Linked DNA regions of Homo sapiens. Changing the gene in region 4 together with the main gene of any one other region gives a genetic interaction. Each region holds a gene or a part of one and is shown on either strand. Other genes may lie near its edges.

Region 1 (3,500 bases), on a different chromosome or scaffold from region 4:
CCCAGGTCTTTCCATTTCCTTCTGGAATCTTCCAAATGTCATTTTAAACAAAAATAACAAAAAAAATTAACCTCCAATATTCTCAACTTCCTTACAGAACATTCCTTCTCCCTTGTTGCTTTAAGTTTAACCTCTTTCCTAAAAGGTTTTTCTGATACCCTTCCCTCAATGCTCTTTATTCTCCCATACCAATATACTAATTGAATCAGAATTCATTTATCTCCATTGCTACTATCCAATCGCTGGTTTTCCACTAATGTGCAAAAAAAGTCTGCTCTTTTGAGACTGATGTCACATGGCTATATAATTCTTCACTTATCCTCACTGCTGGCACCTACCATCTACTGCCAGAATCCTCTCAATCGCAAAGAAGTTTAATACATAGCTACTAGTTTACTGCTCTATTTAACACAGTATTTTTTCTAGTTGTTATTACAGATGATGTCAATGACTCATCCAATGACTAATCCTCAAAGTTCTTGCCCTCTTCAGCTCCAACCACCTTCACTCATACTGCTCTATATCAGTTACTACCATAGCTATAACCTGGACATTAACACTGAGAAACTTCACCTCTGAAGCCTAAAATTCTAATACTGTATTAACCACTTAGCACAACCTCCTAACCCTCAAATTATATATCTCATACTCCCATTATATGTGATCTTCAAACTTGATAAAGGCCAGTCTGTTTAATTCCAAACACGTCCCTCAAACACTTCTTCTCAACCCTCCTCATCTAGTTAGACTTCGTGGTGTATCACTTAAATACACTGTCAAACTGGCAGCCTCAGTATCCTTGATCCCTCATTCCTCCACTGTCATCCATCAAGAAATCCCTCTTGAATCAACGTAACCAACAGGCTTCTCAGACCCTAGTTGCAGGCTATGGAACAAAAAATACAATTACAAAGACTGGTCATAATCCAAATAAAACAGAGACACAGAGACAGGGAAAGGCAGGGGGAGGGGAGGAGGTAGGTGGGGGGGAGGGGGGAAGAGACAGATGTGGGAGTGGAGAGAGAGGTTGTGTGTGTATGGGGTGGGGAGAGAGAGACAGAGACACACACAAAGAAAATATCAATGTAAACCTTCACTATTCTTCCCAAGTCCCTTCCACTAGAACTATCATTAATGACACCATCTCTTCCTTCCAAGAAAACTCTATCAAACTTCAACTCCTTCTTCCCCAGACATCTATTTCTGTACACACCTTCAGAGATATACACACCTTCAGAGATTCTTTACTTCAGCATGAGGGGAAAATATTACTACTGGGGTTTGTTTTTTTTGTTTTGTTTTGTTTTTTGAGATGGAGTTTCACTCTTGTTGCCCAGGCTGGAGTGCAATGGTGCGATCTCAGCTCACTGCAACCTCGGCCTCCCAGGTTCAAGCAATTCTCCTGCCTCAGCCTCTTGAGTAGCTGGGATTACAGGTGGGTGTGCGCCACCATGCCCAGCTAAATTTTTTTGTATTTTTAGTAGAGATAGGTTTCTCCATGTTGGTCAGGCTGGTCTTGAACTCCTGACCTCAAGTGATCCGCCCATCTCGGCCTCCCAAAGTGCTCGGATTACAGGCGTTGAGCCACCGCGCCCAGCCTGAATATTTTTATTTAAATATTTCATGGCATCTCAAACTCAGCATGGTCCAAATTACACTCAATTATCTATCTCCCAGGAACTTTATTTTCCTTGAATCTTCTACTCTTGTGCCATCTTCATCTCTATTCTCTTTCACCTCCAATCTGCACCAAAAATGTGTCTATTTTCTATCCTCTGATCCTTCCTGTCTTCTCTAATACAATTAAGGTCTCATCAAGTCTCACACAAACGACTACAAGTCTACTAATTGTTCTACCTGCCTATGGCCTCTTCAGAATCTAGTCTACACACTACTGCCCAAGTGATCTTTATAAAACATAGATCTGATCGTATTATTCACCAGTTTAAAACCTTTCAGGCCGCTCTGCCTATGGAGGAGGAGCCATTCTTTATTCCTTTTTCTTTTTTTTTTTTTTTTGAGACGGAGTCTTGCTCTGTCACCCAGGCTGGAGTGCAGTGGCATGATCTCAGCTCACTGCAGCCTCCGCCTCCTGGGTTCAAGTGATTCTCCTGCCTTGAGTAGCTGGGATTACAGGCACATGCCACCACATCCAGCTAACTTTTGTATTTTTCTTTAGTAGAGACATGGTTTCACCATGTTAGTCAGGCTGGTCTTGAACTCCTGACCTCATGATCCACCTGCCTCGGCCTCCTAAAGTGCTGTGATTACAGGTATAAGCCACGGTGCCCGGCCTATTCCTTTACTTTCTTAATAAAATTGCTTTCACCTTGGGGAAAAAAACAAAACAAAACAAACTTTCAATTATCCCATACTTGAATAAAGTTCATCATCTTACTATGTTAGCTCTATTATATGACTTCTTCATAGCTCTCCTACCTTATCCCTTCTCAAATGCAATGTTCCATCAATTACAAACTACAAACAGCTCTCAAATACACTATGCTGTTTTCTGCTGCAAGGCCTCTACGCATGCTGCTCCTTCTACCTGGAATGGCTTTTGCCACTTTTCCAGATTCGGCTTTTCTTTCAAGCCTTTTGTGAGCCACTACCCCTGCCACCCAGAAGACAGGACCATTCCATTCTTTTTATTTTTTTTTACGTGGACCCCCTACTTGGCTGTCCAAGCTTGAGTGCAGTGGTACAATCACAGCACACTGCAGCCTCAAACTCCTGGGTTCAAACTGCTGGATTGAAGCATTCCTCCCACCTCAGCCTCTGGAGTAGCTAGGACTACAGGCGTGCACTACCACGCCCAAATAATTTTTACATTTTTTTGTAGAGACAGGGTCTCACTATGTTGCCCAGGCTAGTCTCAAACTCCTGCCCTTGAGCAATTCTCCTGTCTTGGCTTCCCGAAGAGTTCAGATTACCGGCATCAGCCACCACACCCAGCTCCCAAGGAGCTGTATATTATTAATGAGGTGGAAAACATACACGAGACATTGACAAAATATGCTAATAAAATAAAAAAGATCTTTTTAAAAACTATGTATTTTTTTGCTGGGCACAGTTGCTCACATCTGTAATTCCAGCACTTTGGGAATCCGAGGTGGGCGGATCACTTGAAGGTCAAGAGTTTGAGACCAGCCTGGTCAACATGGTGAAACCCCGTCTCAACCAAAAATACAAAAAATATTAGCCGGGCATGGTGGCAGGTACCTACAGTCCCACCTACTTGTAAGGCTGAGGCAGGAGTATTGCTTGAACCTGGGAGGCAGAGGCTGCAGTGAGCGGGGAGATCGCGTCACTGCACTCCAGCCTGGGCAACAAAGAGAGACTTCGTCTCAAGAAAAAAAAAAAAAAAAAACCCAAACTATGCATTTTTTTAAAAAAAATCCAAATCACAGTTAACAGTTTATACTTACCATTTTTATTTGCTGGTGAAAAAAAGTTGAAGACAGGTGAAAATATGGTCCCCAACAAAGTAGTCCTTGGAG
Region 2 (3,500 bases), on a different chromosome or scaffold from region 4:
GTTGCCCACGTAGTAAACAATTTTGCACAGACAAACAGTAGTTCTGCTTCACTTCACCTACTGATATTTCAATGGTAGGAAATCCTGACTTTCATTCAAAACAGCTAAAAATTATCAAATTTCCACTACAAAATTTTGCAGAGAAACCACAAGGCTTCCTCTTATACTGATATTTACAGCACTTGAGCTGTCCTTCAGAGTCTGCTATGAACAGACTAAGACTCAGTTCTTATCCTCTTTTGCTTTAAGAAGTATGTCATACTCTGCTGTATTATAAGACTAAGATTTGTCAGTAGTAAATGAAAAAATTATATTAAACCCCTTTCATTTACATTGTGTTACAAAGTGGCCTTGACATAAACTTTATCACATCACAAATTCATGAGCATGTGCTCTGATCAGTCATCTTTACAGAGGACAGAATTGACTAGTAAGACAACCTTTATTTTTAATAGAGCACTCAACTAAAGAACACTGCCACTTACTTGCTTTCGGGTGTCAGGTAAACAGCCACAGTGTCCCTCAAAGCACAGATTTCAAGTCTCGCCTGAAAATGAGAAAAAGACAAAGTGACAACAGGAAAATTTATATTATCAAATATAAACAAGTACTAAGGTTAAGGGTCTCCAGCCTGCTCATCGTAGGATGGGGTTGGCGTAATACCACCATGGTGACCGCCAGTCATGAGTAGAGTTTCTAAAACAGTCCGAAGAAATTTGCTACCACAAAATGTTCGTTGACTGAAAATTAACTTGTAGTCAAGGATGACTGTGTGAGGGCAGGGAACTAGATATCTCACTATGAAAAGTACAAACTGTGTCATGATTTTCCAGCCATCTGTATTTACTCTCTAACCACTAATTTTTCTTTTAGTCTTGCAAGAGGAAAGACACTTTGAAACACTGCCCTGAAAGGGCCCGTGTCCCACAGAGGTAAGGATGTGGCTTGGCATGCTTCCTGACACCTATGCCCTTGCAGGCACACTGCCTTAATCTCAAAACCTAAACTCTGCTCTATGGATTCAATGCAATCTCTATTAAAATCACAGCTGCTTTTTTTTTCCTTAATGGAAACTGGCAAGCTGATTGTAAAATTCATAAGGAAATGCAAGGCACTCAGAACAGCCAAAACAATCTTAGAGTAACACATTTAGAGGCCTCAGACTTTCTGACTTCAGCCATACTCCAAAGCTAAAATATATTTAAATATTGTATACCCTCATATTTATGATCAACTGCTATTCAACAAGGGTGCCAAGACCACTCAGTGGGGGAAGAACAGTCTGTTCAACAAATGGTGCTAGGGCAACTGGATATCCACATGCAGAAGAATGAAGTTGAATCCTTTCCTTAACACAAAAATTAACACGGATCACAGATCTAAATGTAAGAAACTTATGAAACTATCAGAAGAAACCCAGTGTAAATCTTTGTGACCTTAGGCTAGGAAACCCTTCTTAGAAATCATGCCGAAAGTATAAACAACAAAACAGATAAAGTGGACTTCACCAAAATTAAAAATCCAGTGCTACAAAGACACCATCCAGAATGTGAAAGGACGACCCACAGAATGAGGTATCACTTCACACCCACTAGGATGGCTATAATCAATAAGAGACAATAACAAATAATGGTGAGGATGTAGAGACATTGGAACCCTCAAAAATTGCTGGTAGGAATGTCTGCCACTTTGGAGAACCGTCTGGCAGTTCCTCAGAAGATTAAGTATAGAGTAACCACATGACCTAGCAATTCCGCTCCTTGGTATGCACGCACGAGACATGAAAACACATGTCCACACAAGAACTTGTATAGGAGTGTTCACAGAAGCATTCTGCATATTAATCAAAGGTGGGAAAACCACAAATGCCCATCAGCTGATGAATGGATAAATAAAATGTGGCATATTTAAAGTGGAATATTATATGTAAAAAGAAGCGAGGCACTGGCATATGTCACAACATGGATGAACCCTGAAACATTACGCTACATGAAAGAAGCCAGTCACAAAGGGTCATATTTTCATGTTTCCATTTATACGAAATTTTCAGAGTAGACAAATCATAGAGATAGAAAGCCAATTGGTAGTTGTCTGTAGGGGGAAAGGGTGGTTTGGGAGGCAAATGATTAGACTTAATGGGTCAGGGGTTTCTTTTGGGATGAAATGTTCTAAAATTGATGATGGTGATGACTGGACAGCTCTTTGAATATACCAAAAATCATTGAATTGCATATTCTTTTTCTATTGTAGACAGATCGTATGCTATGTGAAATATTTCATAAAAGTTTTAAGAAAAAAGTTAAGCTTTCACTTCTACGCAAGCATGAATAAGTGTGATCTGACATACAAGTCAGTTTCCTGGGAGCTCCAGCAGACCCACTGACAATGATAACTTGATGTTCTGAAGTAGGTGCCCACAGTGAGTGGGACACACAGGAGAACATTTAAAAGAAATATCCCTTATTCTCAAGGAGTGGACAAAACATAAAACAATGACAAAAGACACAGCCAGCTCTTCACAGTTTATTAGAAATTCTGTAAGCCATCTAGATCAAAGCAGATATATATGACACAGGATATTCAGTGACCTTTTTCTGTTTGGAAGGCAATTGTTTGGTTTCATTTTTTCAGTCCCTTAGAAGCCTGAAAAACAGTATATAACTAGAAAGTTACAAATGCTAGAAAGTATGACAATTTCTGTCTCTATTTTGTTTATATTCTAGTATAGGTAAAAACAGACCTACCAGGAAAAAAGGTAGAACTTTCAGCTGACCATTTTAGGAGAAAGATTAAATTACTACAAAACCAATCTTCTGGTAGAAATTTTATTCAATCAAGGTGATAGAGTGTTTTAATTAACCTGTAAGTTATGCCAATTATAAAAACTGTGGTTAGCTATATAATACCTACAAAACTGTAATCCAGAAAACATCATGCTAAAAGATCTGCCAAAATCACCAAACTGTCACTCCCCTTTTCACCAAGCTCTCAGGACAGTTCTGGAGTTTGGCACCTAATTGCCTATCAAAGGTTAACCTGCTATCCCTCTTAGAGCTATGGCCTCAAGGAAGGAAGCTCTCAAAGTCATTCTCAGTGGGAGAGTGAAGCGGGAGTTTAGACTCACGACCTTTTTCAAAATACACATGTCTGTCCAGGCCCGAGGAGGTCTCAAAAACTGGAGGCTGGAACAGTTTGATGGCCAGTAGTTTCTGGACATGTGTACGTGAAAAAATTTTCCAGCTAATTCTGAGATCACTTTCCAACCTCTCCCTGCTGGTTTTGAGAGTGGTTTAGCCATCAGATAAATGGATTACGGAGGTAATGTGTAGAGAGGGCGGATGCCTGTTAAAATTCTAAGACTGCTAAGGCCCACAGTAGCGACTGCGACTGCCTGTTAATTCATCTGTAGTATTACACAGTTTATACTACTCATCTCCTGTGATGGAACTATTATAATAACCATGACCTTTCAACTTAAACGATAATATCAAAGATCTGAT
Region 3 (3,500 bases), on a different chromosome or scaffold from region 4:
TATGTTTTCCCCATGCCATTAGCATTTTACATGTAGCTCTTACATTTGCAAATATTAGAGTGAACACACATGCTTTAGTTTAAAAAATATTTATTATAGAAATGTACATTTAATTAGTTTTAAGGAATGTACCTGACCACAGTGTTAATATATATTTCTTCAAATTTGCAAACTTTACACCTTTAAGATATCTACAAAGATGATAGTTTATTTACAAGTTTTACAAGAAATGATCACTTCACAATACTGTTGACACAGTTACGATTGAATCTTCTTCTCACTTTTTATTTCACTCTGTACTTATAGAAAGAACAGAGAGTATGGGTGAAGTTCCATCCCAGTGCCAGGGAAAGCCCGTAGAGCAGAATCAGAGGTGCAAATGGATACAGAAGAATTACTGTATTTTTCAAAAATGGCAATGCTGGAAAAGAAAGGAATCCAAACTGATTTAAAAAAAAAAAAAAATAAATGACTAATAAATGAACATTTTGAAAGACAGCTTACTTCAACATGTGGGGTGGAAGGGAATGCATATTTTGAATCAGTAAGATGATGCTATTTATGCCCAGAACTAGACTACTCTTCCCAACCCCTCTGTGCTGTTTCCTCCTTGTCTAGGGCTGGGAAGAAACCTAGGAGAGGAATTATTTCAGCACAGAGGCTGAGTGGGACATCATACACTGGACCAAGAGAGGTTAACAATGAGGGAGAAATGTCACAAATATTCATGAAAACAGTGGTGAATTTAAACTTGTGACTGCCTCAGAAACCTCTAGGAGTCCAACTTAAAGTACAGAGATGGATGGCGTTATAGGAAAACATCTTTTAGCTATTTGAGATTTTCCAGTGTAAAGCATTATACCCCCACTTTAAGAGGGTGTGAGCTCAACTAGTAGCCCAGGCTTCAGAAAAGAACTGAAACTCTTAAATATAAAAGTCTGGCTCCAAATATTGATGTTTCTTGCTCACTGCTTAGTTAGCGGGACCCTACCCCATGCATCCCGACCTAAGTATTTCTCATATAGGAAGTTCTTAAACAAACTGAGCTGTACTCCAACTATTCTAAGTGGTATAGGTCGTTACCAGGAGTGTTCAAATAACCACTTAGAGAAACCACAGTGCTGCAGTGTTCTCATCACAAAACACTTTCAAAATTCATTAGAAATGACACAAACATCTCCCCTGGACTAGAGAAAGCACTCCCCAAACAAGGCATTACAATGAAGGGGTTAAGTGTTCCCTGACAAACCAGCCAAGGGGGGAGAGAACCGGGGTGGGAATAACTCCGGAGCCAGGCATAGTCAGAGCCATCTGTATTTACAGTTAGGCCCTAATCATCTACAGTAACAGGAAAGGAAGGGGTAAGAAACGTACAGCGCAGTCTCTAGATTTTATTTGGCTTTATTTAATGGGATCATTTCTTAACATAAATGAAAAATAATATATGTTCCTCATTCATATTAAGAAAAATGAACTGACAACAGGATTTAACAGTAAATCTGCAAACATGTCCTGAGGACAATAAATGTTGGGCCCGATCTTCTGTGATTGTCTACAGAACCATACGGTAATCATGAAAACTAAGAATGGGGCAAAAAGTTATGATTCAAAAGGCTTTAGAGAACTTCAGTTCATAGACCTATGTAACAAGATGCTGGGCCCCACCTTTCTTCGCTCTACCCTCCTGCTGGTAACCCACAACCTGAAAGCATGGGAGAAGAGGAGTGAATGGTCTTGGATTCCTGCAAGTCATCTGGAGATAACCAGTATGGTTTAACATGTTTCCTTGAAAGTATAAAATCTGTTATATACCAGCTAGGCCATTTTCTAGCTGCATGACCATGGGTAAGTTGCTTAATCTCTCTGCCTCAGTTTCCTCATTTGAAAACAGAAACAAACCTGTGTAATTGTCATGAAGATTAAATGAGATAATGCACATAAAATACTTAGGATAGTGCCTGTAAGTGTTCCATAAAAGCAGCTGTTTGTACTACTGTTACAACTTTCCCCCTCTTGCTATGTTCTCAACCAAAAACATTTAAAAAAATTACTTACCACTGTATCCCAGGAAAGTTACATAGATATAATAGCCAACTGCAACCAACCATAAGGTATTTCCAACTAAATATCCAATAAATGTGTCTGTCAGGATAACATCTGCCAGAAGAGACGCAGACCATGAGTCCCTTTACCAATGCATGCAATGAAGACTTGGATAATACTCTAATTAACTGCTACTTACGGTTGATGAAAAAAAGCTGGATAAAATGCAAAATGACCAGGAGTGGATAAAAAGCATTGAGATGCACATCAAAAGCATAGCCCCATTCCACATCATAGTCTCTGCTCTGTCGTTTCACTAAATACTTGTTAGAGATGAACCTAAGAGCAAAATTAAAATTTCTTTCATAATAAAATGAATTCTGTAAATGTTTACTGACGACTTTCTATGCGGCAGACATTCTAAATTCTGGAGATATACCAGTAAACAAAACAGACAAAAATCCCTGCCTTCCATCTAGGAAGGAAGGCTGACAATGATACACCTATGTCAGATGGTATTATGGAAAGAGAGAAAGCAGCAGAGAAATGTGGAGAATACAAACTTGAGATGCAATTGTACATATGAGGGTCATAAAGTAACATTTGGGTAAAGACCCAAGGATAGTGATGGTGCCTGGCAGGCCTGAGGAATGGTGAAAAGACCAGTGTCTGAAAGAAAAGGAGCAAGAAATGAAGCCAGAAAAGAAACAGGGTTGGGCCCAACATCAAGTCACACAGGCTCCATGTCTTACGAAGCCTGTGGCCGTTTTACAATCTTTGGCTTTTATTCCTGGTGACGTGAGAAGCCACTGTGGAGTTCTGAGAAAAGTATTTGACTTAAATGCCTTGACAGAGCCTCCCTGGTGGCGGATCTGAGAACAGACTCCAGAGACAAGACTGGCAGCAGAGACCAGTTAGAAGGCTACTGCAAGGAAGAGATGAGCAGAGGGGCTGGTGGCAGTGGAGGTGCTAAGATGTGGCACACACGATACTCTGAAGGTAGAGCTCCTGACATTATTGGATTGGAGTATGAGAAAAAAATACTCAAGGATGACTGAGAGATTTCTGCCTTGAACAAATGGAAGATGGAGCTGCCTTTAATTGAGGTGGGGCTGGCTGTGGGAAGAGTGGTTTTGAGGTGGGAAGGAGTGTGCGGAAGTTTGAATTTGGACCTGTTATGTTGAAGATGCCAACTAGTATGGAGTAAGAAGTTGTATACAATGTCTAGAGTTTAGAAGACAAGTCCAAACTGGAAATATAAACTCATCAGTGTGTAGATGATATTAATATTTAAAGCCACGGGCCTGAATGATGTCACCAAAAAAATGAATGTGGATAATGAACAGGCCCAAGGCCCAAGACCTGGGTCAACCCCCTATTAAAAGGAGGATGAAATAGTAAGAAGCAGTTAGGAAGAGTGACGCATCCAGCCATAAGAACAATTATTCAAGTGTATG
Region 4 (3,500 bases):
CCTGGGAGGTATAGGTTGCAGTGAGCCGAGATTGCTCCACTATACTCCAGCCTGGGCGACAAAACAAGACTCCATCTCAAAAAAGAAAAAAAATATATATATATATTTTCAACAAAATCAATTTCTTAAAAAAATTCTTAGGCTTTTAAAGAGAAAATCCACTATATTCTTTTCCCTAAGATATAAAGATGCATATTAGAAACTTTAACTGGAATTTCAGGGTATTCTCTTGTTAGAATAAAAAGATATAAAGATAGAGGCAATGATTTTTTTAAAAAAGACAGCAATTACTTTTAAGTGATCCAGTTAACTTTTAAGTGATCTAAAGATACTATATGAAGATATGGCTTTAATGTACAGTACTGATGGGATAAATGACCTTCGTATGATATACGTTAAATATCTTTCTTTTCCTACTTCCATATGAAAACATGAATAAGTGAATAAATAAACTACAAGAAAACTGCAAATGCAGGGCTATGAAAAAGAGGGATAACGTGCTAAAAATGAAAGACTACTAAAAATACATATGCCATAGGTCCTTTAAACTTTTAAAAATAGTATTTGGGTTTTCTTCTGATTATAAAAGTGATACAAAATGATCAATATAGAAAATTCCAATAATATGGGAAAATATAAAAAAGCAAACAAAAATCATCCATTATTTTGTTGGCCAGAGATCACTACTTGTAACATTCTGGCAGAAAACAAATCTTTCAGGTTTTTTTCTATGTATGCACATGCACAGAGTTTATTTTTAAGAAAAATCTGGGATATTCTTTTGTACCAATTTTATTCTACTTCAATTATAAATACATTCCTATGGCATTAAATATTATTCTATAATTTTTAACTCGTAAAATATTTCACCCTCAAGATTAACAGAATTTAACCATTCCTGTGTTTGTTTCTACTCTTGTATAAGTAACACTCATAAATAAATCTATGTACATATCTAATTATTTAGGAGAAATTTGTAGAAATATACTTGCTGGAACAAAGAAAAAAACTTTATAAAGTTCTTGATATATAAAGTGTCCTGCAGAAAGACTGTATAATTTATACTCCTATTGGAAGTACATGTTAATGCTTATTTCCTAAATTCATCATCAATACTTTAATCTTCACTAATAAGAATCACATTTCATTTTAATTTACATTTCCTTAATTATCATTAAGCCTAAATATCTTTTCTTGTGTGATTACTTTTCCTTTGCTTCTTCATTTATGAACTGCCTATTTTGCCTAATTCTCTACTTTTATGAATTATCTAATTTACTATTTGTGATAGTCATTATTTTTCTTACGAGTTTGTAAGAGGTCTTTACATATTAAAGATATTAAGTCTCTATTTGTCATATGTGTTATAAATATTATTTTCGATATATTACTGCAACTGATTTTTTAAATTCTTTTTTTTTTTTTAAAGATTGGGAGTCAAGTAAAATTCTTTTTTTTCTTTTCTCCCTCAGGTCTATTGAAGAAGTATAAATGACAAATTAAAATTGTGTATATACACACACACACACACACACACACACGTATACACACACATATATATATACGATGTACGACATATTGTTTTTATGTATACACTGTGAAATGATTACCACCATCAAGTGAATTAACTTATCTATCACCTCACATAAGTATTTTATTTTTTGTGGTAAGAACATTTAAGATAACGCTCTTAGAAATCTTTGGGTATACATTATTAACAGTAATTACCATGTTCTACCATTAGACCTCCAGAACTTACTCATCCTAACGGAAACTTTGTACCCTTTAACCAGCAACTCCCTGTTCCCCACCACAACCCCTACTCCTGCAATCACCATTCTACTATTTCCATGAGTTCAACTTGTTTAGAGTCCACCTACAAGTGACACCATGCAATATTTATCCTTCTGCGCTTGGCTTATTTCACTTAGCATAATGTGAGTCTCTTTTCTTCATATAGGTTTTTATTCCATTTAAAGTTCAATTTGGTATTTAAGATTAAAAAAAAAAAACCACCTAACTTTCTATTTTCTAAAAAGTCAATAAATTTTACCAGCATCACAAATTGAACAGGGAATCCTTTCTCTAATTATGTGAAATGCCATATTCATCATTAATGAAATATGTACATATTATGTATTGGAATTTGTTTCTGGACTTTATATTCTGTTCCATTACTGAGTCTATTTTTGAAATAGCATCACAATTTTAATTACTCTGTCTTATTAATAAACATGTAAGTATCTAATGGTAGAGTGTTCTTTATTGTTTTTCCCAACAATTCCTCAGCTATTCTTTAAGCTTTATTCTCTCTAATGTACTTTAGAATCATTTTTGAAGTGAAAAAATAAATCAGTGGTTTTTAATATATTCACAGAATTGTGCAACCATTGCTCTTATCTAATTTCTAATGTTTTCACCACCCCCACAAAACCCCATTCCTATTAGAAGTTACATCCCATTCCCTCCTCCCCAGCCTCTGGCACCCACTAACCTGCTTTGCCTATTCTGAACATGTTATATAAATGAAATCATACAATATGTGGCCTTGAATCTGACTGCTTTCAATCAGCATGTTTTCAAGGTTCATCCACGTTATAGCATGTATCAGTATTTCCTTCCTTTTTTATGGCCAATGTTCTATTGCATGGATACGCCACATTTTGTTTTCCATTCCTCAGGTGAGGTATTATTTTTTGGCTATTATAAATAATATGGCTATTAATGTTCTCATACAAGATTTGGTATGGAATGTGTTTTCACTTCTCTTGGGTATATACCTAGGAGCAGAATTACAGGGTCATATATGGTAATGCATGTTTTTCTCCAAGAATATGATATATATTAACTATAGTTTTATTAATATATAGTGATTCTATGTTTAATTATTTGAGGAAATGCCAAACTGCTTTCCACAGTGGCTGTACCATTTTACATTCTTACCAGCCATAAATAAGAGTTTCAGTTTCTCCACATCCTAACCAACATTTGTTATTGTCCGTATTTTGGTGTGAAGTGGTATCTCACTCCCTGTGGTTTTGCTTTGCATTTCCCTAATAGTAAAGATGGTGAATATCTTTTCATGTCCTTATTGGTGGTGTGGGTAGGTTTTTTGGAGAAATGACTATATGTGCTTTTTTTATGTGAAACTTGTAATTTGCCAGTAGTAATAAACTGCCTGACTGTGAATCTTTCCTGCCACACTACCCTCAAATATAAAAATATTTTAAAATTTACTTAAATGTTTATTTAAGCATGCAGACATCAGAGAGAACATAAAATAGAAAATTAGTGTCATAATTCCACCCTATACTACTTTTAATCAATCTTTATTCTTTAACCTTTTTCTGACTAGAAAACAAATATATGCTTTTATAAAAAATACAAGAAAAAAATCTATAGCATTGTTGTGTGTATGTATTACTATCTGTTCAGCATTTACCATGTGCCAAGCACTGTTTCAAACACTTTAAAGTATTTGCTGTCTCATTCAATGCTAA
Region 5 (3,500 bases), on a different chromosome or scaffold from region 4:
AGTGAGACCCCCATCTCCACAAAAAATAAAAAAATCAAGCCAGACGTGGTGGCATGCACCTGTAGTCCCAGCTACTCGGGAGACTGAGGTGGGAGGATGTCTTGACCCTAGGACACGAAGGTTACAGTGAGCCAAAAGCATACCACTGCACTCCAGCCTGGGCAACAGAGTGACATCCCGTCCCTCCCCCCACAAAAAAAGGTTAAAATGGTAATTTTTGTGTTAAGTATATGTTACCACAATTTAACAACAACGACAACAACAAAAAACACTACAAGGAACCACTCCAAAGAAAGGCATTCACGGTGTAAATGGCAGACACAAATTTATTCTTCATAAAGGAACAAATTCATCTTACAGGATTTTCTTTTTTTTGAGATGGTGTCTTGCTCTGTCGCCTAGGCTGGAGAGCAGTGGCAAGATCTCGGTACACTGTAACCTCCACCTCCCGGGTTCAAGTGATTCTCATGCCTCAGCCACTCAAGCAGCTGGCATTACAGGCACCTGTCACCACTCCCAGCTAACTTCTGTATTTTCAGTAGAGATGTGTTTTTTTGTTTGTTTGTTTTCCTTGAGACATAGTCTTGTTCTATGGCCCAGGCTGGAGTGGAATGGCGTGATCTTGGCTCACTGCAACCTCCGCCTCCAGGGTTCAAGTGATTCTCCTGCCTCAGCCTCCCGAGTGTCTGGGATTACAGGTGCGCACCACCACGCCTAGCTAATTTGTTTTTGTTTTTTGAGACAGAGTGTCACACTGTCACCCAGGCTGGAGTGCAGTGGTGCGATCTCAGCTCACTGCAAGCTCCGCCTGCCGGTTTCACACCATTCTCCTGCCTCAGCCTCCTGAGTAGCTGGGACTACAGGCACCCGCCATCACGCCTGGCTAATTTTTTTTTTTTTTTTTTTGTATTTTTAGTAGAGACAGGGTTTCACCATGTTAGCCATGATGGTCTCGATCTCCTGACCTCGTGATCCACCCGCCTTGGACTCCCAAAGTGCTGGGATTACAGGTGTGAGCCACCGTGCCCGGCCAATTTTTTGTATTTTTAGTAGAGACGGGGTTTCACCATGTTGGCCAGGCTGGTCTCAAACTCCTGACCTCAAGTGAGTCATGGCCTCCCAAAGTGCTGGGAGTACAGGAGTGAGCCACCACACCCAGCCAAAAAAAATTTTTTTTAATGCTTACCGGGGGGGAAAACGAAGAAAGAAAACGAACAGGAGGAAGGAGTAACACTAATGAATCTTGCAGGGTCTATTTCTCTGCCCTTTCCTCATATGGACATAATACATGCCATCGTCCTCCTCTGTCAAATTATCTCACAGATGAGATCATGTAATTTAAGTGCATTAAAGTCTAATGCCAAAGCCAGTTACTAATTTTAGTTCACTTCCAATACCTTATTTATTTTCTTGAAACCAATTACGGTCTGAAAACTCAATCTAGATAAAATTCTACTCACGTCATGTATGTGTTATAGTCAACAGTAAGAGCTAAATTTCTAGATATAACAAATTAAAATGAACAACATATAAAGCATACATTCTCAGGTTTCATCAATCCAACTGTCAAGCTCTGGCCAGGCGCGGTGGATCACGTCTGTAATCCCAGCACTTTGGGAGGCTGAGATGGGCAGATCACCTGAGGTCAGGGGTTCCAGACCAGCCTGGCCAACATATAGTAAAACCCCTTCTCTACTAAAAAATACAAAAATTAGCTGGGCATGGTGGCGCACGCCTGTAGTCCCAGCTACTTGGGAAGCTAAGACAGGAGAATCACTTGAACCCGGGAGGCAGAGGTGAAGGTTGCAATGAGCTGGGATCCCGCCACTGCACTCCAGCCTGGGTGACAGAGGGAGACTCCATCTCAACAAAACAAAACATAAAAACAATGTAACAGTCACAGGGGAAAATCCCACAGAGGAATAAGTCCTTGCCCTTGCAATTCATATTCTCCAGAGTTCTTGGAGATTAACGTCATAGTCGATATTACTAGTAAAATTTTCGCTTCCTCAATTTCCCAAAAGTCTTTATAATAGTACTTTTATGACTAATATTTCTTGAGTGTCTACTACATGCCAGACAGCAACCTAAGCACTTAAACTCTATCCTTGCAACAGCTCTTAGAAGCGAAACATGTTCTATTATCAACTCCATTTTTAAAAATAGGGGCCAGGCGTGGTGGCTCAGGCCTGTAATCCCAGCCTTTGAGAGGCTGAGGTGGGCGGACCATCTGAGGTCAAGAGTTGGAGACCAGCCTGGCCAACATGGTGAAACCCTGTCTCTGCTAAAAATACAAAAATTAGCCAGGTGTGGTGGCGCATGCCTATAATTCCAGCTACTCGGGAGGCTGAGGCACAAGAATCACTCGAACCCGAGAGGCAGGGGTTGTAGTGAGCTGAGATCATGCCACTGCATTCCAGCCTGGGTAACAGAGCAAGACACTGTCTCAAAAAATAAAAATAAAAATAAAAAATAGGCCGGGCACTGTTGGCTCACACCTGTAATCCCAGCACTTTGGGAGGCCGAGGCGGGTGGATCACCTGAGGTCAGGAGTTCGAGACCAGCCTGACCAAAATGGAGAAACCCCGTCTCTACTAAAAATACAAAATTAGCCAGGCGTGGTGGTGGCACATACCTGTAATCCCAGCTACTCAGGAGGCTGAGGCAGGAAAATCGCTTGAACCCAGTAGGCGGAGATTGCGGTGAGCCAGGCGCGCCACTACACTCCAGCCTGGGCAACAAGAGCAAAACTCTGTCTCAAAAAAAAAAAACAAAAAATAGGGAAACATACAAAGATGAAGTGAAATGCCCAAGGTCGCACAGGCAGGAAACGGCAAGGGCCAGGACTGGAATCCAGGCAGTCAGACTTCAAACTTGTGTCGCTAGCCATAAGCTATAAACCCTCTCTCAATTTATAAATTTGTCTTCCCTCTCATGATATATTTTTTAAGTAACTAGTTCTTTAAAAATCCTACATAGAGTGTTGGCCAGGCGTGGTGGCTCATGCCTGTAATCCCAGCACTTTGGGAGGCTGAGGCAGGTGGATCATTTGAGGTCAGCAGTTTGAGACCAGCCTGGCCAACATGGTGAAACCTGTATCTACTAAAAATACAAAAATTAGCCGGGCATGGTGGCACACACCTGTAATCCCAGCTACTCAGGAGACTGAGGCAGGAGAATCGCTTGAACCTGGGAGGCGAGAGTTGCAGTGAGCCGAGATCGCGCCATTGCACTTTAGCCTGTGCGACAGAGGGAGACTCCTTCTCAAAAAAACAAAAACAGAAACAAGTTACAACCAAAGGAGAATGAGTCAATCCTCCAACAACTCTGACAGTTCCTGGCTATACTGAACTTTCTCTTACTTTCTCAGTAGGCCAAAGTGGTAAAAAGCAAATGAGTACTGCCAGAAACAGGCATGGAATACCAAAACAAGAATTTTACAGAGGAGAAAACAAACAGGAAGACAGCAGGGAGAGTTCCAGAACAAAAGGACAACAGTA
Region 6 (3,500 bases), on a different chromosome or scaffold from region 4:
GGAAAATTTATAAAGTTTTTCTTTGCTCTCTCTTCATTCAGTAACTCATTTTTATTAAATCTTAATTTCTATTTTCTGGCTGCAAAAAAAACCTTTTTTTTGATTTGCAGTTTGATCTGGTGTGCTTTATTGTTGGTTGGTGTGTTTGTTTAGTCAGGGTATTCTGGTAAGCTCCCAATCTCTTTTTCTAAATAAGTTGTTTTTTTGGCAAAGAAACATAAACATTACCAGGCACACAAAAGCATGGATAAGAACAGAGAATAACTCTTACAGAGATATAAATTAACAAAAGAACCAATATGAGAACTTCTCAAAGCAAATTACAACATTCTTATCATGAAAAAAGGCAATCTATCCTGGCGAGGCATAGAAAAAGAAAAGAAAAAAATTATGTTAGCAAGATATCTAAACTTCACAGAATATCCGAATATTATTTTCTTACTTTGTAAATAAGTCCAAATGCATTCATGGCTTAGTAAATTGTTAAGCCTACTGCACTATGCTATACCTCATCTTACTGTGCTTTGCAGCGGGTAACAATCTGGTTTAAAGCACCACCAATTCAGTCTCACGCTGAGTTTATTATCCTAACCACAGAACTGTCTCTCTTTCTCTCTATATGCAGTTACTTTTTGGGTCATTTTAAAAGTCTTCAGGCCGGGCGTGGTGGTTCACACCTGTAATCCCAGGACTTTGAGAGGCTGAGGTGGGTGGATCACCTGAGGTCAGGAGTTCAAGATGAGCCTGGCCAACATGGTCTCTACTAATAATATAAAAATTAGCCAGGTGTGGTGGCGCATGCCTGTAATCCCAACTACTTGGGAGGCTGAGGCAGGAGAATTGCTGGAACCTGGGAGGCGGAGGTTGCAGTGAGCCGAGATTGTGCCACTGTACTCCAGCTGGGCGACGGAGCCAGATTCCGTCTCAAAAAAAAAAAAGTCTGCATAAAACCTCCATAATACTTATATCAAAAACAAATAGCAGTCAAATTTACTTAATACTAGATTAATCGTTAAAATGTATTTGAATTTGACATCAACTTACTGCATGTTTATAGAAGCTACTTATAATTGTTATTCATTTTTAGAAAGTTCAAAATCTGATTCAGTACCAGTATAAGTTTATCCCACTTATTTCTTAAAACAGGTTTTTGTCCTGTATATTTTTAATATTTACATTTGTGTTAATGCTTTCCTAGTAACATGCTCCTTAAGGATAGTAAACTTGTCTTAAATTTCTCATAGCCTACACCACTTAGTACACAGTCTTCCATCATATTGGATGGCTGAGAAACAATGACTATTAACTAGAACTTAAAACTGTTATCTACCTATATTTACTTTATAGGAGGACAGATTTTCATCCCTACTTTTTAAAGTGACAATGAGCAAGGGAACCAAGATGTATATTCATGTACTAGATTCTGAGAATGTGAGATTCAAACTCAAGAGTGGAAAAAATAACAAATGTGGATCTAGCAGAAGCTCACAATAAAATGGGAAAATGACTTAAATGACATGAGATTTAAAAAGACAAAACAAAACAAAAACCCCTAAATATTAAAAACCGAGTCTTAGAATTATTTTGGGTTAGTCCAAGCTTGACTAACCTGCAGCCCAGGACAGCTTTGAATGCAGCCCAACAAAAATTTGTAAACTTTCTTACAACACTATGAGATTTTTTTTTTGCAAGTTTTTTTTTAAAGCTCATCAGCTATCGTTAGTGCTAGTGTATTTTATGTATAGCCCAAGACAATTCTTCTTCCAATGTGGCCCAGGAAAGCCGAAAGATTGAACACCCCTGGGTTAGACAGTAAAGTACTATTATCTACCCATTTCACCAATTACCGGACTCTTTCTCGATACTGAAGTCAACAGGGACAAAGGCAAAGTATAGAGAGTAAGTCACAGGCTTCGAACTCAGGTGGGTCTGAGTGCCAGTTCTGCTTCTTTTGGCAGTGTTACCTGGGGCAAGTTATTCCTGGTACAGTTTCTTCAGCTATAAAATGGTAATTATAATAAAGGCACCTATCTCTTAGGGTCGTTGTAAAGATTAATGTGAGGCAAAGTGTTTAATGGTATGGTACATTTTAAATACTCAATAAATGTTATTTTTATAATATACTTTTTTCTGATTGACCCAATAATTTTAACTTGAAATTGAAAAAATACTTTTACGATTTGCTATGTACCTTTCCACAAATCATTTGCTACACTCTGGTCCATAGTGCAGCCAAATAAACCACATTATTATGTTAGCACCTCCCTGCATTGCCAAACCTAGGTATCCAGTGAATGAAAATCCTATCTTAACAAAATACGAAGTTGTGTAACATGAACGATAAAAGTAATCTGCAAAACTTACTATTCCTAGATCAAAGTTTTCTCTTTCTAAGGTTATATATAGTATCATAGGCTCTTATTAATTACCTTGTCAGAAAAAGGAAAAGAAGCCTCTCACGTGATGCAGGCTGATCTCGAGTACTGAAATAGGAGTAAATCTGAAGAGCAAATAAGACGAGCCAGAAAACCATGAAAAGAACAGGGACTACCAGTTGATTCCACAGGGACATTCCCAAGGCGAGAAGGCCATATACCTCCACTACCTAAATAAAAACGTAAGATAGGAAAACTTCTTGCATCACCATCAATAAACACTTTAAACACTTGAGTCAAATCAGAAGTAAAATATTAAATAGCTTTTCTTTGATTGCAAGACTGTTTCAGCTAAATTCCTTTAAAGTTAGCCTATATAGTTAATAAATAGCATGTTTTTTAAAACTTACTAATTTTGCATTATTATTAACACTTGACACACACTTATCTAATAGCACAGTAAACTGCCCTAATAGTTCAGGGATAAGGTCAAAATAAGGTCATATTCAGTACAAAATAACCTTAAAAGGTAGTTTGAGGAGACTTGGTAAACACTCATGTCTAATCAAAATAATCAGGACTAGCATGAATTGATACAACACTGCTTGAGGCACTAGGAAAAAAAATGCAAAAGTAAAAACTTTCAGGGTTTATTCAGAAATGTCACAAATGAGAAACAGTTCAATGGAAGAAGAGTACTTAATCACTGGAAAAAAATTTTGCAGAGCAAAGATAGTTAGCAAGTCTTTTTCTCCCATACACATCAATTCCCCTTCCTCCTACTGTGTTTTTATCAAGCTATGTTTTTCCATTTGGTTTGCCAAGTGTAAGTAACACTAGGAAAAGGATATATCTTAAAAAAAAAAAAGGCTTAATAATCTGCAACTCACTAAATTAGTTTTCCAGTTTATAAAACACTCTTCTTATGAAACTGATTAGGAAAAATCAATCACAGAATCTGATTCAATCTAAGAGCATAGGTGTAACCAAGTTTCTAGAGTTACTATGTCAGGGACCAGACCCTGGTGACACAGCAGGAATTCTGCTGGACAGCTTACAAAACCAGTATCTAGCAGTCAGCTGGTCTTGCTGGAATCTCTCAATGTGATACCAGAATGTTTCAAT
Region 7 (3,500 bases), on a different chromosome or scaffold from region 4:
ACATGGAATCGAGGCGAGTATGAAAGCAGTTATAGTGGCCATTAGATCGGGCCACCCCAACATTTTTAGGGAGAATAAGTATTGTATCCGTTTGAGGGAATTAACAAAAATGTTTTTCAGTAAGGTAATAATTTTTCTTGAAGCCATTCAGTAGTCTGTTGCCTGAAAGCTGTTAAAATATAGGATTTTATTTAACCTTTTGTCTGTTTTCTAGAATAGTGCAACTTTATTATCCTTGTTAAATCAGAATTTGTCATAAGAACAGTGGAACTCATTATTTTCATATAAATTATTATACTAATTACAAAGCATCTTAATCTTTTCCTTAAAAAGACTCTAGCAATTACTATTTTTCAGGATGCTGGTAACTTCTATAGAACTTGAATTAAAACATTTCCTTAAAAATTCGGACTGTTGTTCTTCCTCTAATTTACTTGAAAATGAGGTTTTATTAATAATGGATGAAATTACTTTCCTAGAAACAATTTTTGCAGGTAAAGCCAAAAGAAAAGGCTATTAGCTGAGGAGCATTATGATGTGAGATCCATTGGGCCAGGATTCACCATGCAGGTTGCAAAGTAGAGGTCTGCCTGCACTCAGGGTGACAGCCTTAGGTAAGAGGCAGGGTGGAAAGGAGAAGATATTGCAGGAACATTGGTGGCATCAAAAACAGATGTAAGAGATGAAAGGGATGGCAGAGCTGCAGGGACAAGAGGTTGTGCCAGAGAGTGTGATGTCATTAATGTTTCTGAAGCGGAGTCATGGTGTATACGTGTTCAAAAAGTGGGATGATGGTAAAGGTCATTTGTGTAGAATTAGTAGAGAAACTGAGGCCACAGCCTTTCTGAGTCATCCTAATGGACATGAAGGCCAGGAGGAAGAAACAAGGTGCTCTAAGCCAGGCTCCAGCTTCTCCACAGGGGACAGTAGTATTAACTGGACAACACGACTTTAAAAGTGAAGAAGTCTAAAGATGGGGGTGGGGGTGTGAGAGATCATGCAGCCTTCACTCCGGAGAGCTTTGTGGGAAATTGGGTTCATGGGAGAGAAATTGGTATTCGTTAAGCCAAAGAAGTAGATTACCTGTTCCGCAAAAAGCTTAACGATATATAGGCATATATTTCCAGTGGGATTTGGAGGTTTGCAGATGACCCAGGAGAAAGGTTATTGGAAGGAGAATGAGAAAGTCAAGAAGGAAATAAAAATATGGGAATGGGTTAATAGGCAAAGAGAGGTGAGGTGAGGAGCTGGCTTTTCATGCCACGCCCTAGGAATCCAGAAAGGTGACGTCCCTGCCTGGGGAAGTCACTAATTTTGAAGGTCAGATTGGGCTTTGGTGAAAGTGTTTTCAGTATCAGAACTTATAAGCCTCTGAGTGTGAGTGAGCTTGATAATGACCTTTACTTCATTGACCCTTACCAACCCCAGGCATGCCAGGATATGCTCTAGGTTTCAAATCCACATTTGATGAGAAGTCATTTAGGTGTCTCTGAACAACCCTCCCCCAAGGGAAGTAGTAAATAATTATCCCTCTGCCTTTCAGCTGTAGTGCAAGAAGCTTGCACTAGGTTAAAAGTTGTGCCTTTCTTTTTCGCCAGCCTCCGCAATGACTGCAAGACCACATAGTGCATCCCTATGACTAGGTCATTCTTCCAGAGAACCAAGCTCATGGGCACCACTGTGATCTCAGTGTTCATTCATTTTTAATAAATAAATTTGCATCATTCTGAGTCAGCTGGTAATAAAAATGAAATTATTATTAGATGCAAAATGAATGCCTAACATAAAAATATCTACTAAAGAAGCTACTAAATATTTTTTCTTAATTAGAGCTTTTCCTTAAGATATGTAAGTATGTAGTTCGGTAATGTGTTAAGGAGGTTCAGAATTATTTAGCTAGTGGGTCCAAAAAGCTGTGGTTGCCTGTGAATCCCCCAACCAAGGGGTGGCTTCTCAGAGGGTGAGGGAGAGATGAACAGGGAAGGCAGCAGAGCCTGTGGAAGCTGCTGCATCTGGAGTCCCCACTGGAGCTCAGGCATCTTGTTGGAGAATGCAGTCAGAAAATGCTCTCCGGGGGCAGGTGGTTCAAAGAATTCCAGGCATTATTTTTCCCTCACAGATAAAGAGTTTAAAATATTTTTCTGCTCTTTTTACATAATGTATTAATGACCGCTTAATGTGTTTCCTTTCTCTAGGCAACCTATTAGGGTTCACTGTAAAAATAAATCTATCCAGAGAGCATTTTGCAATTTCCAGAAGGATTTCACTTGCATGTTTTTATTTTATTCTTTTTTTATTTTGTATTTTATAAAACTATGTTGTTTTTCACATACTCTCACCTAGCAAAGTAAAAAATTAGCAACCCTATTCAATCTGAAAATTTGGGAGAAATTTTGCATGTTCATCAATTTCCAGGAATCTGGAAGTGACTGTGTGTGTGATGGGGCTGGGTGGGACAGTAACCCCAGGGGCTATCAAGAACCATTCAGTAATGTAGGGATCTATGGTCAGATGTTGGGGAAATGTTCTCACAGGGCTTCTCAGCACCTTTTCTTGCTGGTATGCATTGGGAATCTCTAAAGGGAGATTGACAATAGAGTATACAGCATTTAAAACTTGGGCACTGCTTTGGGAGATCATTCATTAGCCAGTTGTTAATTGGAAAAGCGGGTTAGAGAATGTTGTGGGAAAAACTTGAAATGAGTAACTCTTCTGCTTTTAGTTTCACGTTTTCTAAAATGTAACAGCTCTCTTCAACCGAAGGTTAGCATCATTAGGTTTGTTAGATGCCTATGACATGACATAGTTTAAGGAAGTAGTATAATCAACTACATCAGCAGTGTTTAATTTCTTTAACTTTCTATGTTTTTATACCCGGCTACCTTGTTAGTGTAATCACTGCACAAATTTTAAAAGCTTCATGAAGTCAGTAAGATGCAAGTGGCATGTATTGCACTTCATAAGCTTTAAATGTTCCTAGGCCTGATTTCAAGGACAAATAGCACTTATTTTGATATAACTTCCAAAACAATATGGTATCAATTATACTTCAGTTTTTATGTAAACTGACCAGTTTCCAGTTTATGCTACAAATTTCTAATGTTTTTACATTTTCTATTTTTAAAACATTATAAATTTAGCATGTAGTTGTTGAGCGTTTATGTCCATTTTTGTAGTTGGAGGCTTTTTTCCCTTGAGAATTTCAGCATCTTTGTTCTTAAAGACTTCTTTTGACGGTTTTATTTGACAAACATTTAATCTTCACAACACTTCTGTAGGAAATATCATCTTTGTTTTACAGATGAGAAGGTTGTCTCTCAGAAAAGTTAAGTGATTTGCCAGTCTGGGAAGGTGATGAACTGGGTTTGAACACAGATCACAGATCCTCTGACTAAATCTCATGCCTTTTTTAAATCAGTGACTACATTACCTTTTACAGCCACAAGTAATCTCTAAAAAATCTGCTAATTAGAGTGGGGTCTTAGTTTTTTTCATTATGG

The links.
Region 1: changes in PTAR1 (region 4) and CTDSPL2 are lethal when combined (synthetic lethality), as found in Homo sapiens cells (one study listed by BioGRID).
Region 2: changes in PTAR1 (region 4) and EXOC2 are lethal when combined (synthetic lethality), as found in Homo sapiens cells (one study listed by BioGRID).
Region 3: changes in PTAR1 (region 4) and UNC50 are lethal when combined (synthetic lethality), as found in Homo sapiens cells (one study listed by BioGRID).
Region 5: changes in PTAR1 (region 4) and GTF2I are lethal when combined (synthetic lethality), as found in Homo sapiens cells (one study listed by BioGRID).
Region 6: changes in PTAR1 (region 4) and RNF145 are lethal when combined (synthetic lethality), as found in Homo sapiens cells (one study listed by BioGRID).
Region 7: changes in PTAR1 (region 4) and VPS41 are lethal when combined (synthetic lethality), as found in Homo sapiens cells (one study listed by BioGRID).

The regions. Positions count from the first base shown.
Region 1 is NC_000015.10:44,486,629-44,490,128, reverse strand, and holds part of CTDSPL2 (CTD small phosphatase-like protein 2), read right to left. Parts: coding exon 3,429-3,500; intron 1-3,428. UniProt on the Homo sapiens protein: Probable phosphatase.
Region 2 is NC_000006.12:490,640-494,139, forward strand, and holds part of EXOC2 (exocyst complex component 2), read right to left. Parts: intron 548-3,500; coding exon 486-547; intron 1-485. UniProt on the Homo sapiens protein: Component of the exocyst complex involved in the docking of exocytic vesicles with fusion sites on the plasma membrane.
Region 3 is NC_000002.12:98,615,089-98,618,588, reverse strand, and holds the end of UNC50 (protein unc-50 homolog), read right to left. Parts: intron 2,383-3,500; coding exon 2,243-2,382; intron 2,158-2,242; coding exon 2,056-2,157; intron 444-2,055; coding exon of another isoform or gene 422-443; coding exon 285-421; 3' UTR 74-284; downstream 1-73. UniProt on the Homo sapiens protein: Involved in the cell surface expression of neuronal nicotinic receptors. Binds RNA.
Region 4 is NC_000009.12:69,725,512-69,729,011, forward strand, and holds part of PTAR1 (protein prenyltransferase alpha subunit repeat-containing protein 1), read right to left. Parts: intron 1-3,500.
Region 5 is NC_000007.14:74,664,218-74,667,717, reverse strand, and holds part of GTF2I (general transcription factor II-I), read right to left. Parts: intron 1-3,500. UniProt on the Homo sapiens protein: Interacts with the basal transcription machinery by coordinating the formation of a multiprotein complex at the C-FOS promoter, and linking specific signal responsive activator complexes.
Region 6 is NC_000005.10:159,171,554-159,175,053, forward strand, and holds part of RNF145 (RING finger protein 145), read right to left. Parts: intron 2,606-3,500; coding exon 2,430-2,605; intron 1-2,429. UniProt on the Homo sapiens protein: E3 ubiquitin ligase that catalyzes the direct transfer of ubiquitin from E2 ubiquitin-conjugating enzyme to a specific substrate.
Region 7 is NC_000007.14:38,738,192-38,741,691, reverse strand, and holds part of VPS41 (vacuolar protein sorting-associated protein 41 homolog), read left to right. Parts: intron 1-3,500. UniProt on the Homo sapiens protein: Plays a role in vesicle-mediated protein trafficking to lysosomal compartments including the endocytic membrane transport and autophagic pathways. Acts as a component of the HOPS endosomal tethering complex.